Linked DNA regions of Homo sapiens. The protein of the gene in region 3 interacts with the protein of the main gene of each other region in a pairwise test. Each region holds a gene or a part of one and is shown on either strand. Other genes may lie near its edges.

Region 1 (4,392 bases), on a different chromosome or scaffold from region 3:
TATACTGTTCCTTAGAGTAATGACTAAAAAAAAAAAGTACAAAATGTAGCTTAAAAGGCTACAAATTAAAATAGAATTTTAAAAAATATTTAAAACAGAGGCTACCCCCTCCCTCACCTGAGGATGAGAGCCCTGTAGGGATAACCCTTATCTCAGCTGGATTTTAGGACCATTTGCCTCAACAAGATGACTCTGTTGAAACCAAATTGCATGACTCCTTCCAAAGCTCCTGTTTTAATGGCTATAAAGGTATAGAGAGCCATAAAACTCAAAACTTTACTCGACTTACTTTTGCTCAAAGATATTGGTATTTTTTTCCCTACCTCTACTAGCACAACCATTTAACATTTCTAACATATCCTTTATTACCTTTAAACCCAGTGTTATTTATACGTACATTTGTTCCCCAACAAATAATACAGCACTTCTGTTATTTGCCCAGCATCTTTCTAGGCACTGGATAGGCAGCAATGAACTACCGTAACAAAATCTGTTCATGTGAAGCTTACATTCTAGGTATAAGAAACAAATCTATAATGATAAACAAAACACTAAGCCACTCAAGCAAGGTGACAGGTTGGACTTTTTTCCTACAGGTCAGTTTTAAATCACTACTTAACAGTGTAAAACTAGTTTGATGTCACTATATTAAACACAACTTGAATCAAGAAAAAATGCATGACAGGAGAATTACTTGTACATATATTGGGGCCCACCTCTGACTTACAAAATCAGAAAATGGGCAGAAAGTGTAGGGGAAACCCATGCATACTTGTTTTATGAAAGTATTCCCAAGGTAACTCCAAAATCCAACTTTTCCCCAAGTCTCCTCAGCTTTTCAATTTTACATAAGAAACTTTGGTTCTCAATTTGTTCTCAAACCATGAGCCACTTAGGCAGAATATAGAGACCCCACAGCCTACCTACTTTATAGTGAAGAACTTAGTTGTAAATCAATTGGAAAGGGAAACAGAAAATCCAAATGTATTAATTCTTAATAATTCATAGGTAAGAAGTGTTTTTTAAACTTGAGAAATTATGGCCACAATTTATAATCACTTATACAATCTTCCTCAATCCTCATAATTACCCTGTTCTGGTGATTTTTTTTTTAGCCATGTTTTTCAGTGAAACAACTGAAGTACAGAGAATTCAAGCAATTTGTCCACGTAAATTACACCTAGTAAATGGCAGAAGCTAAACTTCAAAGCCAGGTTTATCTGATGCCAAAGCCATATATTTTGTCCCAATGAAAATGCCAACACTAACGAATTGAAGCCAAAATGGTAAATTATAAAATGTAAACAAGTACAGACTCTACTATACAGAAAATTATCCTAGCCTAAACTGATCCATTCGTTCAAAGTTCCAGATAGCAAAGACTGTGATTTAATATAATGAAGCACTACTTCTTTTCAAACATTCATAGTAATTTTAAGGATTCCTTTTTATTTAATTTAGCATACCTAGAATTCACTGTGACTAGGTATACTATGAGCAAAAAATAAAAATAAAAAATCACTTGACCCCATTGCACAAGATTTAGCGTTTTCCTTTGCTACTCTCCTGGAGTCTTACACCCGGTTCCTCTTCCCAACCTACTTACACATTTCAGAACAAGCAATTTCTGTGCATTTTATTTCTATTTAAATTTACATATTTCAATTTACATATTTCAATTTAGTGAGTTTTCTTCTGATCGATATCATCTTTCCCCTTTCAACTTTCATCAGCAAATAATTTCTGGCAATAAAGTACAATCTGTTACATTTCCATGTCTCACAACGTAAGTGTGAAAATGACAATATGGTAAAGTAGACTGCTATCATAGTTCTAACAAAAAATGAATAAAGTATTGTCATTGTCCAGATTTATGCAGAATATGCCTGTTCGGAAATTCTGAGTTCAACATATGCATGCTAATACTTACACTAATCGGAAATTCCTGAAATGAGAGCAATTTATCTAGAGTTTATAGCACTCTCTGCTCTTCTAAGCATCACTATGTGAATTTTATGGTGAATTATTAAATTTCTTTCCCCTTCTCACAAGAAAGCAACTCAACAAAACCACACCTGTTCTCCCGAAGAAAGGATATTTTCCAATAGGAGATATAGTATTCACGAGAGCACTATTAAAAAAAAGATAGTTTTTCTCTCAGTTTCATCAAGCATTAGAAAGCAAAATATTTAATAACATATATAAGTACGTCAGACTGTTAAGCAGAAAACTGTGAATTCTGCAATCATCTCAAAAATTAAGAAAATGAGAAAATATTCAACTAATGGCTGAAATGCACTGCTTTCCAGATGATTTCCGTAGCAAAACACTTCTACCATTGTCACTTCGGTGTTCTCAGTCCAAGTTAGAGGAACTTGCTGAAACATATTGTCATAAAATTGCTAAAGGAAAGGGGAATCAATAGTGAGTTACCTTTAGTTGGCTCCTCTGGCTTCTAAATAGTAAAAACAGGTTTGGTGAATTTCAAACATTTTAACAGAGTTCATATTTAAAACAAAAACAAAAACCAAAACAAAAACCTTAGTTGCCCAATGGGGAAAGTGGTAATATTATACAATACAAAATAAAAACTGTCTTAAAATTATTCTAAATGCCAAAATATAATGGGAGGGGACATAACGGAACGGAATTCTCAGAAAATACCTCAACAACAGCCAAGCCCCCAAGGAACGGATTTTCCTTTTCAGGGAACAAATAGGAGTAACAGATTGGCTTCGCTCTTGAACAATATAAAACAAGATTGCTATGTACTTTCCATATCTGTACTGAAGGAAAACTTACTTGTTTTAGAAAAACCGTTTCTTGCTATTTTTTCCTGTCTTAATTTACATATTAGTGAAAAAATTGCCTCATGATATACCTCATAAGGCCAAAAAATTATAATTTGATGTCAGCATAGAATCACAATTTCAAGAAAATAAAAGGGTCAAAATACTCCTGTCTCTTTCTAGAAAAGTCACCAGGTACAGGTTGAAAATCCTTTATCTGCAGTTCTAAAATCTGTAAAGCTCTGAAAATACAAAGATTATTCTTAAGCATGTGGCAACTCACTTGAGAGCAAAACTTAGCATATACTGACTTGATACTTAATGTGACTTGATACAGTGCAGAAATATTAATGTGTTTTGACTAGAGGATGTTACTCCAGACCCCAAAAGGGGGGATTACTTAATATGTAGTATAGGCACTGCAGTTTTCTAAAATCTACAAGATACTGAAATCAAAACACTTCTGGCTCCAAAAATTACAAATAAAGAGTTGCAGAGCTGTCCTCCCTTTTGCTTCATAGTCATTGCATATGCCAGGTGTGCTGACTCATAACCATTTGAATGACTAGATTGCCAGGTTCAAGTACAGGGCTAGAAGTTGTGCAGACAGTTCTGGACATTGTTTTCTGTAAGAAGTAAGTAATATAAAAGCATTTGACTGGTCTGCAACTCTGTGTGGAGAGTAGACAGCCCAAATTTTCAGACACTTTAAGACAGTAAGACACAGAGGAGTGAAAAAAAAAAAAGACATTTTAATGAACCCAGTGACACCATTATCTATACTGAAAACCTCACATTATAAATTGGGAGGTAGTATTACCCCCATTCATTTCCTGTATCATGAAGCTAGTCTATTTTAGGCTGTTTAAGTAACCAAATAAAGAGTTAAGTGATCCAATCATTTGGAAATACTATTAATTTTTTTACGCATAGGAAGATTCCCCAATGTGCTTCTTTTCAACAGAATGCAGGATCTATGAGAATAGAAATTTGTCTATTTTTGTTAGTTTCAACATTTCAATAAGCTGTCTCTTGATTTACAGTACAGTATTGATTTCTATTTAAGTTGGTTTTAAAGAAAAATTCTACATGTTGAACTTTTTAATGATTCATTTAAAAATAAATTATGATATTTATGGGGCAAATTCCCTTTATCCTGTCCCCTCTCTAGTTTTACTGTCTCATCCCTACACAGCTATTTTGTGATATGTAAGTTCACACTTGATGCCTCTAATTTTTTTTTCTTTTTTTTTTTTCTTGAGACAGAGTCTGACTGTCACCCAGGCTGGAGCGCAGTGGCATGATCTCAGCTCATCACAGCCTCCACCACCCAGGTTCAAGTGATTCTCATGCCTCAGCCTCCTCCTGAATAGCTGGGATTACAGGTGCGCACCACCATGCCCAGCTAATTTTGTGTATTTTTAGTAGAGATGGGGTTTCGCCATGTTGGCCAGGCTGGTCTCAAACTCCTGACCTCAAGTGATCTGCCCACCTGGGCCTCCCAAAGTGCTGGGATTCCAGGAGTGAGCCACCATGTCCAGCCTGATGTCTCTAATTCTTAACCTCTCCTACCCACTGTAATTCAGCTTTCCCTTCCCACTAC
Region 2 (4,392 bases), on a different chromosome or scaffold from region 3:
CTTCACTTCCTGTGTTCAAGCGATTCTTGTGCCTCAGCCTCCCGAGTAGCTGGGACTGTAGGCCCGTGCCACAACGCCCAGCTAAGTTTTGTATTTTTGGTAGAGATGGGGGTTTCACTATGTTGGCCAGGCTGGTCTCGAACTCCTGGCCTCAAGCAATCCACCCATTTCAGCCTCCCAAAGTGCAGGTGTGAAGCCACTGCACCCAGCCATGCCATACACTTTTTAGCCTGGGCAGGAAACTTAAAGCCTAGGTCTTGAAAGAAAGGTATTTTTAATTGGTCATTCATTCTCCAAAGCTTATTGAGCATCGTATGCTAACGTTATGAAAAATAAATTTTCCTCACTAGACTATAGCTCCATGATAATGGTTGGAAGTCACAGGAAAGGTAGATTTCTGCTCAGTGTAAGCCTGTTATTGCTATTAACATTGAAATGGCCTGATCTTAAGTTTCTGAGCTTCCTGTCATTGGAAGCATTTAAGTAGTCCTGAATAGTCAACTGTTAATAAATATTATAGGTATTTCTATTTTGGAAAGAGATTGAACCAACTGCCCAGGGTTTCAAGGATTAAGTTCAGCAGTTAATACCAGAGACTTGAAAAATGGTGGTTTCTGGTAACAGAGACCTGGAAACCATGGCTTAAGCAAGAGAAGGATTTTGTTTCTTTGGTATAACAAAAATCCAAAAATAGGTATTTTAGTAGACCTCAAGTGATTACTCCTTGATCGCATTAGGAACCCAGGCTCCTTTTAACCTTAGCTATTTTCAACATATGCTTTTCACCTGAAATCATAAGATAGCTTATCTGCCTCCAGTATTGTGTACATGTAAAAGGTGGTAATAAGGAGAAGGATAGTGGAAAAGGGGGCATGTGCCAAATGAGTCAGTCCTCTTTAAAGAGTTCTTCCAGAAGTTCAAGCCAGTGGCCTCAATTGACTAACATTGTATAGCATGACCACCCCTACCTACAAGGGATGGGAAGCTAACTGGACATGTTGTTACTAATAAAAACCAGAGTATGTCAGAAAGAAGGGAAGGTTTGATGTTGGGAGGCAAGTAAGTTTTTTCTTCTACCCATCAAAATCTTTTTTTAGTTAGAAAATATTTGAATCTAACATGTCCCACTCCATTGTGGCACCAATACAAATGGTTATGGATACATGGCTTTATTATAGTTTGTTACTAGGAATAGTCTTGGCCGTATTGATTTGAATTCTCCATGTCTAAAAACAGGAACAAGCAGGTCCAAGAACACTTTAAAAGCACTTCCCACTCAGCTGCTTGTTAACTGAAAGAATGTAGAAAAGCTACTCAGAAGAGTAGCTATTCAGGCCAAACTTCCTGATAGTAGAGCATTGTTAGCTTTACACTTTTATTTCCATCTATTGCTGCCTAGATTCCCTTCCTTACTGTACTTCTTTATTCCTTTCCTCTTCTCTGTTCTTGCCTTTCAAATTTTTAGACAGGGTCTCACTCTCTTGCCCAGGCTGGAGTGCAGTGGCTTGATCACAGCTCTCTGCAGCCTCAAATTACTGGGCTCAAGCAATCCTCTCATCTCAGCCTCTTGAGCAGCTGAGACTACAGGCGTGTACCACCACACCCAGCTAATTTTTTTAATTTTTTTGTAGAAACAGGGTCTCACTATGTTGTCCAGGCTAGTCTCAAACTCCTGGCTTCAAGCAATCCTCCCACCTTGGCCCCCCAAAGTGCTGGGTTTACAGCCTGAGCCACAGAATTGAGCTCTTTAAAATTTTTAAATGCCCCAAACTCTTTTTATTTATCTCTCATTAGAGATCTGTGGGTTCCTTATTACCTGGGAAATGAATACATTTCCCAGCTTGTCCTTGAGTTAAGAGACTCAATTTAGAAGTTAATTGAAATTATAAACATTGAAACCCTGAAAAAAATGTTTTTTTTTTCCTCGTGATACAGGTTGTTTCTTATCTAAAATGCTTGGGACCAGAAATATTTCAGATTTTTGATTTTTTTTTTAATTTGGGAATATTTGTGTTAGACCAGTTGAGCATCCCAGATCTGAAAGTCTGAAATCCAAAAGGGTCAACTGAGCATTTCCTTTGAGTGTCATAGTGACTCTCAAAAAGTTTCAGACTTCAGAGCATTTTGAATTTCAGATTTTAGGGTTTGGGATGCTCAACATGTAACAGTATTCTTGATTTGGGAAACAGTAATTATAAGGAATGTGTTTATTTTACATTTTATATTGATTTATTTATTGAGATGTTGCTGGATATATGCCAATGGATATGACAGAGGTCCCCCTTCTTATGGCCAAGACAGAAAATATTTTATGCTTTGTAGGCCACCTATGCTCTATCAGATTTTTCTTATGGGCTGGATTTAGCCCATCACCATTTTTTAATTCTTGCTTTAGACTATGTAGTCAGAAAAGCTATTGGCAAAGTTTAGCAGTTAAGAGTTACATGTCCTGATTTCTGTATTCAAAATGGCACTAAAATAATAGACTAAGGGCAGACAAGACAGAAACAGAAGAGTTACATTCCTAAGTTTTTGGCTTATTTAACTGGGGCCATTTATAAGAATGGAAGGCTGGGAGAAAACTGATCTGGGAGGTAAAATATATTAATAAGTTCAGTTTTGAAGGTGTAACTTATAGATTCCTAAATGTAATTGTCAGTTAGAGTTTAGGAGGAGTCCATCACACACACACACACACACACACACACACACACACACACACACTTATAGATAGATCACACACACCCTTATAGATAGATCACACACACACATAGATAGATAGATAGATAGATAGATAGATAGATAGATAGATAGATAGATAGATAAATCAGCATATAGGTGGCACCTAAAGCCATGGGATTGTATGGTATTTCCTAGGGAGAACAGAGGGCTATAAAGTAAGTCAAAGGGGTAGTCCAGCTGAGGAGCCTAGAAAGCTTAAGAGTATTTAGTGAGTTAAGAAAACTAGAGAAGAGTATCATGGAAGCTAAAAGAGAATGAAGTGGTTAGCTGTATCAAGTCATGCTGTCAAATAAGATAAATAGGCAGAAAAAAACAATGCACAGGACATTATGGACTTTAACAAGAATAGTTTCACTGGAATAGTATGGGGCAAAAACTATATTGAAGTTTTGCTCTGAAGACCAACAGAGAAATGGTGCTATAGCAAAGAGAATGATGTGATCAAGGGACCATTTGCTTGATGATAGAATGATTCAGTAGAGAAGAGGGACTTGACGATGCAAGAGGAGGGATTTACTTGCATATGTTATGGATTGGCTGTGAAATTCATGTATTTTTGTTTGTTTGTTTGTTTGTTTGTTTGTTTGTTTTAGATGGAGTCTCACTCTGTCGCCCAGGCTGGAGTGCAGTGGCATGATCTCAGCTCACTGCAACCTCCGCCTCCCGGGTTCACGCGATTCTCCTGCCTCAGCCTCCCGAGTAGCTGGGACTACAGGCACATGCCACCACACCCGGCTAATTTTTTGTATTTTTAGTAGAGACAGAGTTTTACTATGTTAGCCAGTATGGTCTCCATCTCCTGACCTTGTGATACACCCGCCTCATCCTCCCAAAGTGCTGGGATTACAGGTGTGAATCACCACGCCCTGCCTGAAATTCATGTATTTTAAGGGGCAAACAGGAATCGTCTTGGTTAAAGCAAAGGGAATAAAGAATTTTCTAAATAGACTAAGAGCAAAATCCAAGTGCTTGAGAAAGCACAGCATACTTGGGGGATGGCAAGCACTTAATATTGGCTGAAATGGAGTTTCCTTTTAAGCTAATGACAAAAGTAGTTGGCTAGATCAAGAAATACCACTGTATTATGCCACAGTGTTTAGAATTTATTCTGAGGACAGTGAGGATCCTCTGAAGAATGTAAAACTAGGAAAATAATTTTTTTTTTTTTGAGACGGAGTCTCGCTCTGTCTCCCAGGCTGGAGTACAGTGGTGCAATCTTGGCTTACTGCAGCCTCCGCCTTCCAGGTTCAAGTGATTCTCCTGCCTCAGCCTCCTGAGTAGCTGTGACTACAGGCGCCCGCCACCATGCCTGGCTAATTTTTGTATTTTTTAGTAAAGATGGAGTTTCACCATGCTGGCCAGGCTTATCTTGAACTCCCGACCTCAAGTTGTCTGCCCGCCTCGGCCTCCCAAAGTGCTGGGATTACAGGCGTGAGCCACCGCACCCAGCTGAAAATAAATTTTTGATAGCATTTTTTAAAGGTAAGATAGAGGAATATAAATTTGGAGGTTGGCAAAACTGGAGGCAGGAGGCCAGGCGCGGTGGCTCATGCCTGTAATCCCAGCATTTTGGGAGGGCAAGGTGGACTGATCACTTGAGGTCAGGAGTTCAAGAACACCCTGACCAACATGGTGAAACCCTGTCTCTAC
Region 3 (5,284 bases):
GAAAATTGTTCATCACCAGCACCTTTTCGAAAATATGTGTGGATAAACAAACACACTGAGAAGGGATCATACAAGTAAACATGCAAAGTCAAAGCAACAGGGCTGCTCACTGCTATCCAGCAAGTCTGCTGCCCCACCCACCACCCTGATAGAGCAGAATGAAAGAGAACCTCCAGGGACCCACATACCCAGCACAAAATAACAGCTAGAGAACTGAGAAATCTAAAAGTATAACACAGCTATAGGAGTCCTACTCCAAAACCACAACCAGAGAAGTCCAGGAACAATGTAAACACAACACCACAAAAGAGAAAGTAAGTACTTGATAGGCTTTTACCGAGAACTCTAGGTTTCAAAAATGACATGTTTATTCCAGAAATCAAAAATGAATTCACTTTCACTCTAAAGGTCTCTGCAGCATAGCTAAATATAGGAAAGTCTGAAGATGCTAGAGGAAGGAATATACAAGAAGAAATTCTTTTTTACAAATATGAAGTATTTAAAAAGTATTAAAGATATAGCACATTATTTAGAAGGAAGTTGGAAAGACTTACATAAAATAATAAAATAAAATAAATGGCAACCTTAAACTCACTGCCAAGACTGAACAATTTTTATAAATGGATTATTTTGTAAGAACAAAAACTGACACCAAATAAGATGGACAAATATGAATTAATGAAGACTTAAAAGATGGGTACTTATAAAAGCAGGTGTAAGGGTATTTGAAAAATGTAAACACATATAAAATCAGCAGACCTGGCATGAATACTGAGGTATTAAGGGAACTAGCTAATGTACTTACTGAGCCACTTACAATTATTTCTGAAAAATCTCAGAGAACTGAGGATAGATCAGAAAATTTAAAGAAAGCAAATACCAAATTTTCAAACCAGGATAGGAAGTGAATACCTTGTAAATACACTTTGTTAAGTGATGATAATTCTGAGTAAAAATTTAGAAGATTTTGAGAAAAGCATTTGAACTTCTAGGGGCCAATAAAATACCATGCAGAAGAATGTTTAAAAAGTCATGCCAAATTTGAATCCATTTGATCCTCAACCTCATCAGATGTTATATGCCAAACTACTTATTTTGGCTTAGATAATAATCATATAGAATGAAACTTTCCACAAATAGACTGTGTCAGTGGCTGGCTACTTCTAACAAGGTGCCACCAAGAGAGTTTTGAGATCAATTCTAAATTAAAATATTTGCTAACGATCTAGAAAAATAAGTCAACAGCATCCTGGCAAATCTGCAGTTAGTTATAAATTGAGAACTGTTGTTAGTAATAGGCAAAACAGAAAAACAATACCAATATAGATTTGCAGCAATTAAAAATGTAGACTCCAAAGTAAAACTTAGAAAAATATTAAAGTATTAAAGTGAAAGAATTTAAAAAACAATTCAATGGAAAGGACAGAGTAATAACTGAAGATGATATAAGAAAACGAGAGAACAGATTCTTATTTCTTAATCCAGCATTGCCCGAAACATATACAAGAGTTAAAAATAAATACATAAATAAAGTCTTTATATTATGAGTCATTCTGATTAGACCACGCACAAAATGGTGCTTAAAGTATTGGTCGTACTATAAAGATGTAAACAGAGCAGAAGGAATTGCCAACAGAGACAGAAATGAGGGGTTATTTCATAAGAAAAATTGAATTGGTAAAATATGAATGGCCACAGCTAAAAAGACCAAGGTAGAATATAAACATTCACATAGGAAAATATGAACACGAGACACACGGGAAGACATGGGAATGTATGCTGAAATGGCTACATATGATGTGCAGGGAACCATCAAATGGTATACAGCAGGGAACAGCAATGAGATGAACTGAACAAGCTATTTTTATCATCTGTAGTTCTAATGTGTAATTCTGTGAAACTACTGGGTTTTCAGTTATTAAACAAACACCTAGCTTACAAAATAATTCTTTTTTTTTTTTTTTCTTTTTTTGAGACAGAGCCTGTCACATTGTTGCCCAGACTGGAGTGCAGTGGGCACTCCACTCAGCTCACTGCAACCTCCGCCTCCTGGGTTCAGGTGATTCTCTGCCTCAGCCTCCTGAGTAGCAGAGATTACAGGCACCTGCCACCACACGTGGCTAATTTTTGTATTTTTAGTAGAGACACGGTTTCACGTAGATGGCCAGGCTGGTCTCAAACTCCTGACCTCAGGTGATCCACTGGCCTCAGTCTCACAAAGTGCTGGGATTACAGGCATGAATCACAGCACCCCAGGCCTACAGAGAAATCCTTCTACCTGGTCTGATTTTTTTGGACTATAATTAGAGCTTTCTACTATAATTAGAGCTAATAAAACTCAGAGGGGACAAAAACCAGTTGTCTTCTGTTCCAGAAGAGTGACATCATGCAGTTTATAAAAATTAAACGGACCAAAGAATCCCCACCCTTAACATATAAAATCAATAGAGGTTGAATTACATACACTACAATGCATTCTTAGGCACATTTTCTCTTGAAGGAAAACTAAAACAATAAATCACGGAAATTCAAATGAGCAAAATACTAACAGCTTCACTTATAAGCCTTTTGCATGAGGTAATAACAAGCATGAGAAACAGATCCTACTTTGGGAAGGTTCATGGGTGTCCTCAGCCGGGTCCGGACACTCTTCATTAATATACGCTGCTCTGTTGGCAGCAAATGGTACTTCATTGCTTCAATGAGGTAATCTTTGCAAGCACTGCTATTCTTGACCAATGCTTCCTCTTCAACCCTCTGTAACAAGAAATCAGACACACCCACTGAGGGTAGGGCTATTTCATAATTAAATTGCCAAAGAAAAAGAAGTAAAGGAGAGGAAAAAAGCAGTAACTATATCCTTTAGTTTAGTCTAAAAATAAACGAGGAAAGTTTATAAATACATCTAAGAGAAAAATAAATATAACCAAAAAATGCTCAAGTATCTGGCCTGCAGAGAAAAACATATATAGGTAATAAAAAGAAGAACCACAGTGAAAAATGATAAACTTCAATGTTAGCTATGGAATATGATGAACTCTTCGGATATTATATCCACCTGTGTATCTTTAACCTTTAAGACAAAAAGTAAGCAAAACAAGAAACAAAGTTTAGATAATACATCCTTCAGGTGAAGACAATACTAATAAGTTAATGATACCTTTTTCAAACACAAGTGGGCAAGTAAAATATCCCAAAAAGAGATTAGAAATACCTTAAAGCAACGTACCCATAACACAAATAAATCTTGTACTGCCTAGCCTGACCTCAAACGCAGGACAGGCTTCTGGGTTCGTTTTCTTTTTTCTGGGGGGGGAGGGGGGGCGGGGGGAAGGGAACAGAGTCTCACTCTGTTGCCCGGGCTGGAGTTCAGTGGTACAATCCTGGCAAACTCCACCTGCCGGGTTCCAGCAATTCTCCTCCCTCACCTTCTTGAGTAGCTGGGACTACAGGCACCTGCCACCATGTCTGGCTAATTTTTTGTATTTTTAGTAGAGACGGGGATTCACCACGTTAGCCAGGCTGGTCTCGAACTCCTGGCCTCATGCCTGCCTCCGCCTCCCTAAGTGCTGGGATTATAGACGTGAGCCACTGACCGCACCCACCCTTTTGGATCATCTTCTTAATACCAGAAGACCCATGATTACACAGATCACAAAAAGTAATGAGATTTCAAGAAATCCTAAAATGTTCAAATCTAATTTCTTAATAAATGATTCTTTCAATGGTTTCAATTATTAAAATAATGCTGAAATGTTCCTAGCGGGATTCTAATAAAAAAAACAGTAAATTTAAAATTATTTGGAGACCACTAAAGAATCATTTTTCACATTTATTTCAAATAATGTTTTCCCTCAGCTTAGAAATAAAGACAGAAATCAAATGCATGCCACTATTAAATTACGAAGTAAAATTAAACGGTATTTGGGTCAGACCTCAAAATTCCAGGTCTGCAGGGGAATCAGAAGAGACTATGGAAAGAAAAAAACAGTAAAGAAGATGCAAAGCAGTGACTGCCACAGGGACATTTATTTACATGTATTTAAGTGACCACAAATACTACCTTGATAAGCTCTAGTACTTGCTTACCCAAATCAAAAATAGGGGCAAAAGCAAATTTCTAAGAACGGGGAATGGTGGCTGGGTGTGGTGCCTCACAAGGCCTGTAATCCCAGTAGTTTGGGAGGCCGAGGCGGGTAGATCACTTGAGGTCAGGAGTTCGAGACCAGCCTGGCCAACAGGGCAAAACCCCAACTCTACTGAAAATACAAAAATTAGCTGGGGTTGTAGCATGCACCTGTAGTCCCAGCTACTCAGTAGGCAGAGGTACAAGAATCACTTGAGCCCGGGAGGTGGAGGTTGCGGAGAGCCGAGATGACGCCACTGCACTCCAGCCTGCGGGGTCCTTTACTGTCTTCTGTCCTGTACTCCACAGATCTGCATTCTACAGCTCTTATCACTGCTTGATAGGGATCTACATGCTGTCAGGCCAGTGACACAGTGCTGTGTGGATTCATATGTTTTGCATATGCATTTACCTGAACTAAATATTCCCGAGGAAGCAAAGGTAACCGTACATGTTCCATCAGTCGGGCCATAAACTCTTGCCTCACATCCTTGTCATGGTTCACCCATGCTATTACTGCTTCAAATACCTTGCAGAAAATATAGGAGAAGAAAAAATAAGAAATGAGTTGTGTATCAAGGCATCTGGATAAAATATGAGACTACATTTTATATATAACTCTTGCTAAGACATCCAAGTTTAATTCACAGCTCAAGTGTTTTCAAAATCCTGACTTGCAATGTACTTACAAAGCCATTCACCCCATTTCTTTTCTGTTCTTTTTTTTTTTATTTACCCAAAATAATAAAGCAAAGTGATATTCTGGAATGAAAATCATGTATCCTTATAAACAATTCATGTTTGGCTTTTTCTTCAGGTTTACAAACAAATGTTAGACCATACACATAAATCGAAGGTTTGTACAATAGATCGACTCAGCTCTGTAATAGCAGAATATATTAAAATGTAGTATTTTGAAATTTTTTTTTACAAATTAAAAAATAAGGGCATTATTTTTTACAATACATAATTGTGAGAAAGCTAATAAGCTAATATGAAGACACTGTTTGTCTACATAATTTTCTTCTCAACTGATGAATATATCACTTAATAATCTTTAAAGGTTTGCAGGAAATGTTTGACAATATGCAATTGGATAACTGAGACCAAAAATAGGTTATTTTGATCCAGGAATAAAGCAAGAAACTAATTCTCTCA
Region 4 (4,084 bases), on a different chromosome or scaffold from region 3:
TGTGTGTGTTGGGAGGGGAAGTGTGTGGCCCCGCGGGAGGCTGGGCGGGTTACTGCAGGGCTTCAGCCGAGGGACCCGCCTCGCCCTCGTGGCTGGCGGTCTCGAAGCCATGCTCCACACCCATCATGTCCGGCTCGATCTTGCCCGTTTCACTGATGAAGGTGGTGTAGGCGTCATCCTCAGCCTTGAGCACCTTGACCTTGGGCATCCAGCTCTTGCGCACGACGCGGCGGGCGTTGGTGCACATGTCGGCCGCGATGGCATTCATCTCGCTCTCCTTGAAGTTGGGGGCGAAGTTCTGGCAGTAGTCTGTGGGGCAGGGTGGGTGCGGCCTTGGCACGGGGGCCAGGTGACTCCCACAAGGCCTACTCACCAGCTCCCCTACAGCATCTGCGACTCCCTCTCAAAGGGGAAACGAGTGAGGCCACGCGGCCAGGACACCACACTACGTGCACCCAACCCTACACCGGACTGAGTTCAGCCATGTGTGGGGATGTGTTGGTTTTGATGGGATGGCCCCGTGTTCTTGAAAAATTCGGATCATTTGCCAGAATTTAGTAACGGGGAGTGGTCACTTGAAAATCTAGATGCCCCCCATGACGAGTGGCTAGCACTGTCTGGCTGCCTCATCCCTCCCAGACTGCCCTGAGTTCGAGACCCTCCTGCCTGACACAGGCTCCCTGGCTTCCCTTCGGCACGTGCATCCCCCAAACACGAAGAAATCTCTAAGCAATCACAGCCGGTTTCCCAGCAAGGCTAGAATGAGCCCCAGAATGCTTCTCAACACTGAACTCTAGCCCTCTCTGAGAGCCAAGGCTGGGAAAAAACGTCAACCTGCGTGCCCCGGGCCCACGCCTCGTCCAGCTGGGCCAACACTCACACTTGACAGCGTGGAGCACGCGGCTGTCCAGGGGCTTCCGACGGGGATCGTTGGTAGAAGAGCGGATGCCGGTGCCGCAGCTGTTGGCCAGCGTGTTCCTGGGGGCAGGGGACATGGAGGGAGTCAGCGCTCAAGTTGGTGGTGGGGGGGACATGGGGAAACCCCACCCCCCTCCCTGGGGCTCTGGCAAGGGCCTTACCGGTCAAAGAAGGAGGCCAGGAGCCGCCGCAGTAGGACCTTGTGCCGCGTGCCTGCGCTGACGTGGCAGTTCATCAGCTGCGCCCTTGTGATGTACACGTTGGTGCCTGGTGAGAGGAAGCCGGAGGATGGCCTGGGGTGCCCCCAAACCGCCACAGCCCCCATGATACCAGGCCTCATCTCAGAACACCCCAGGCCCTCCCTGCTGGGCTCTGGGTCCCAAGAAAACTCACCCAGGGACCTTCTCCCCTACATCTCTACCCACCAAGGGCAGTCAGGGGAGGCTCCTTGGGGCTCCCCCAACCTCATCAGTGCTCAGGAAAGGACAGAAAGGGTTGCTTCACCATCCTCGGGGTGCCTGCTGTGTGGCCAGTCGTGCCGCAAGCCTGTGTGAGGTGGGCACGCTGGCTGTCACCAGCTAGAGATGAGCCCAAGCTCAGCAGGACCAACAGGGAGTGGAGGCTCACACCTAGGCACTCTGACCCAAGGACCAAACACAGTCTTCTTCTTCTTTTTTTAAGAGATGAAGTCTCACTCTGTCACCCAGGCTGGAGTGCAGTGGCCACCACAGCTCACTGCAGCCTTGACCTCCTGGGCTCAAGGGATCCTCCCACCTCAGCCTCCTGAGTAGCTAGGACTACAGGCATTCGCCCCTGTGACTGTCCAAATTCCTAACCTAGGTAGTAGCTGGCCTTCACAGGAGCCCGGGAAGTAGCTAATCTACCCATGCGGCCAAACAATAATAGCCAATGCTCGCCCCGACCCCTTAAGCCAGAAACCTAGAGGCCAGGCCTTGCTGTATCAGCTCCTCCATCTCACCAACGCCCCCACCCTTAGGGTGGCTGTTACCAACACTACAGCACAGATAGGGAAACTGAGGTGCTGGGGGCTCCTAACCAGCTGCCCAGCCCAGCCCAGGCCAGCCGGCTCCAAAGCTGCGGAGGGGAGAGATCTGGGGCGAGACCGGCCCACCTGTCACCAGCTCCAGCTTCTCAGAGGGGTCGCCCTCGTCGTAGAGCTTGGGGTGGCAGCGGTTCCCAATCTGGTTGATAAGTTCAGCCGGGAGAGACGCCAGGTCTTGCCGAACCCGGATGCGATTTCGGGACTCGGGGGCTACCTGCTCCGGGAGGGCCTCCACCTTCTCGGCTGCAGGGAGAGAGTGGCACGCGAGTGGCAGGAGGAGCAGGGGTGGCTGGTGGGATGGGGGACAGGACGGCACCTCACCTGTCTGGCCGACGTTCATCATGCTGTACATGGTGTACATGTTGCAGATCTGCCGGTACTGCTCATCCATGCCCTCCTCGCCACCATCCTCCTCCTCGTCCTCCTCATTGTGGTAGGAGCCAGGGCTGTCGCTGGTGTAGGCGCTTGAGGTGCCTGGGCTGGTCCGCTCCGACGTGCTGGGCCCACTCACCACACCCCCTGCTGCTGCCACCCCACCGGCTGGCTGCCCTGCTCCCGCAGCCACGGCGGGCTGGGCTGCTGCCACCACCGGAGCCTGTTGGGGTGGCGGGGGCTGGTGAGGCCGGTTGGCAGCCAGGTCCGGCGTGGAGAACTTGGCCATCTTGCGGCTGCCATTGCCGCCGCCCCCAGCCTCCTTCTGGCCACTGTCCCACAGCCGCTTGGCCACGGGCATGCACTGCACGGAGTCCGACTCCTGCTGCTCCGTCTTCACCCGCGACACGAGGGGCAGCGGGGTGCTACAGGCTGGCCAGCCCGATGTCTGCGCCACGGGGCTCTGGGGCTCCGACGATGGGGCCTCCTCCGCATGCAGGCCCTGGGAGTCGCAGCTCGGGGAGCTCACCTTGAGGAAGAACTCGGTGCCCTTCTCCATGATCTCCTGGATCTGCAGGAAGCCAGCCGTGTACATGAGCAGGAACTGGTCGCCCACGTTCATGCTCAGCCGGCCCGTGTAGCAGAAGCTGAGGATCTGCTGGAAAGACTGGGGCTGCACAGCCGCCGGCAGCTCCACCACGGCGCTGCGGCTGTTGTTGAACAGGTCCCGGAAGTAGGAGCTGCTGGCAGCAAGCACGGCCCGGTGGGCCTTGAAGGCATGGCCCTTGACCACCACTGACACGTCACAGTACAGGCCCTGCAGCCGCTGTTCATTGAGGCACTCCAGGATGCTGTTGCCGAAGTTCGGGATCTCCATCTGCAGTGTCTGGGCCATGGCAGCGGCTGCACGAGGGGCAGGGAGGAATGGAGAGACAGAGACGGAGGGACGGGGTCAGGCGGCAAATGTGGGTGCTGGCCTAGCCCTGGCCCCAAAGACCTCCCCTGCTGGAGGGACATCCGCACGATGGAATCTACCATGGTGCTAAACCACACAGAGCCCTCTACCCTATCTGTCCTGGTACAGACTCACTTTTACAATATGTGGTCAAATCTGCTAAGCTAGCTGCAGACCAGGGTGGCCACACGCTATCCCTTGCAAAGAGGAGGGGGCAAAGGCATACTTATTCATATGTACTTGAAGAGTAACTGAATATGCTTAAGTGCTCGGAAGAGTGGCTAGGACACAGTGTGCTACCTCTGAGTGCCAGCTATTGCAAGCACCAGGTACATATATGGTATCTCTTCAGGGTACTGGCATGGAAATGCCAGAAAGGCAGGGTCATCTGACTGTGCAGCAGAGTCTGCAGTGCTGGGCACATGCCCTTCAATCACTGTTTGTATAATGACTAAATGACCACTCAAGAAATTACATGAGGTCAGGCGCAGTGGCTCACTCATGTAATCTCAGCACTTTGGGAGGCTGAGGCAGGCGGATCACTTGAGGCCAGGAGTTCGAGACCAGCTTGGCCAACGTGGCAAAACCCTGTCTACCAAAAATACAAAAATTAGCCAGGTAAGGTGGTGTGGGTATGTAGTCCCAGCTACTAGGGAGGCTGAAGCCAGATAATTACTTGAACCCAGGAGACAGAGGTTGCAGTGAGCCGAGATTGTGGCACTGCACTTCAGCCTGGGGCATAGAGTAAGACTGTCTCAAAAAAAAAAAAGGAAAAA

Evidence for each region. The genes of interacting proteins can lie anywhere in the genome.
Region 1: the proteins of KLHL2 (region 3) and CWC22 interact in binary tests that used the Homo sapiens proteins (3 or more experiments, as listed by UniProt).
Region 2: the proteins of KLHL2 (region 3) and PIBF1 interact in a two-hybrid assay, tested with the Homo sapiens proteins (one large-scale study listed by BioGRID).
Region 4: the proteins of KLHL2 (region 3) and NACC1 interact in a two-hybrid assay, tested with the Homo sapiens proteins (one study listed by BioGRID).

The regions. Positions count from the first base shown.
Region 1 is NC_000002.12:179,997,298-180,001,689, forward strand, and holds part of CWC22 (pre-mRNA-splicing factor CWC22 homolog), read right to left. Parts: intron 2,610-4,392; exon of another isoform or gene 2,434-2,609; intron 1-2,433. UniProt on the Homo sapiens protein: Required for pre-mRNA splicing as component of the spliceosome. As a component of the minor spliceosome, involved in the splicing of U12-type introns in pre-mRNAs. Promotes exon-junction complex (EJC) assembly.
Region 2 is NC_000013.11:72,787,741-72,792,132, forward strand, and holds part of PIBF1 (progesterone-induced-blocking factor 1), read left to right. Parts: intron 1-4,392.
Region 3 is NC_000004.12:165,296,980-165,302,263, reverse strand, and holds part of KLHL2 (kelch-like protein 2), read right to left. Parts: intron 4,656-5,284; coding exon 4,539-4,655; intron 2,758-4,538; coding exon 2,608-2,757; intron 1-2,607. UniProt on the Homo sapiens protein: Substrate-specific adapter of a BCR (BTB-CUL3-RBX1) E3 ubiquitin ligase complex that mediates the ubiquitination of target proteins, such as NPTXR, WNK1, WNK3 and WNK4, leading most often to their proteasomal degradation.
Region 4 is NC_000019.10:13,134,372-13,138,455, reverse strand, and holds part of NACC1 (nucleus accumbens-associated protein 1), read right to left. Parts: intron 3,257-4,084; 5' UTR 3,249-3,256; coding exon 2,303-3,248; intron 2,225-2,302; coding exon 2,051-2,224; intron 1,186-2,050; coding exon 1,080-1,185; intron 979-1,079; coding exon 881-978; intron 310-880; coding exon 50-309; 3' UTR 1-49. UniProt on the Homo sapiens protein: Functions as a transcriptional repressor. Seems to function as a transcriptional corepressor in neuronal cells through recruitment of HDAC3 and HDAC4. Contributes to tumor progression, and tumor cell proliferation and survival.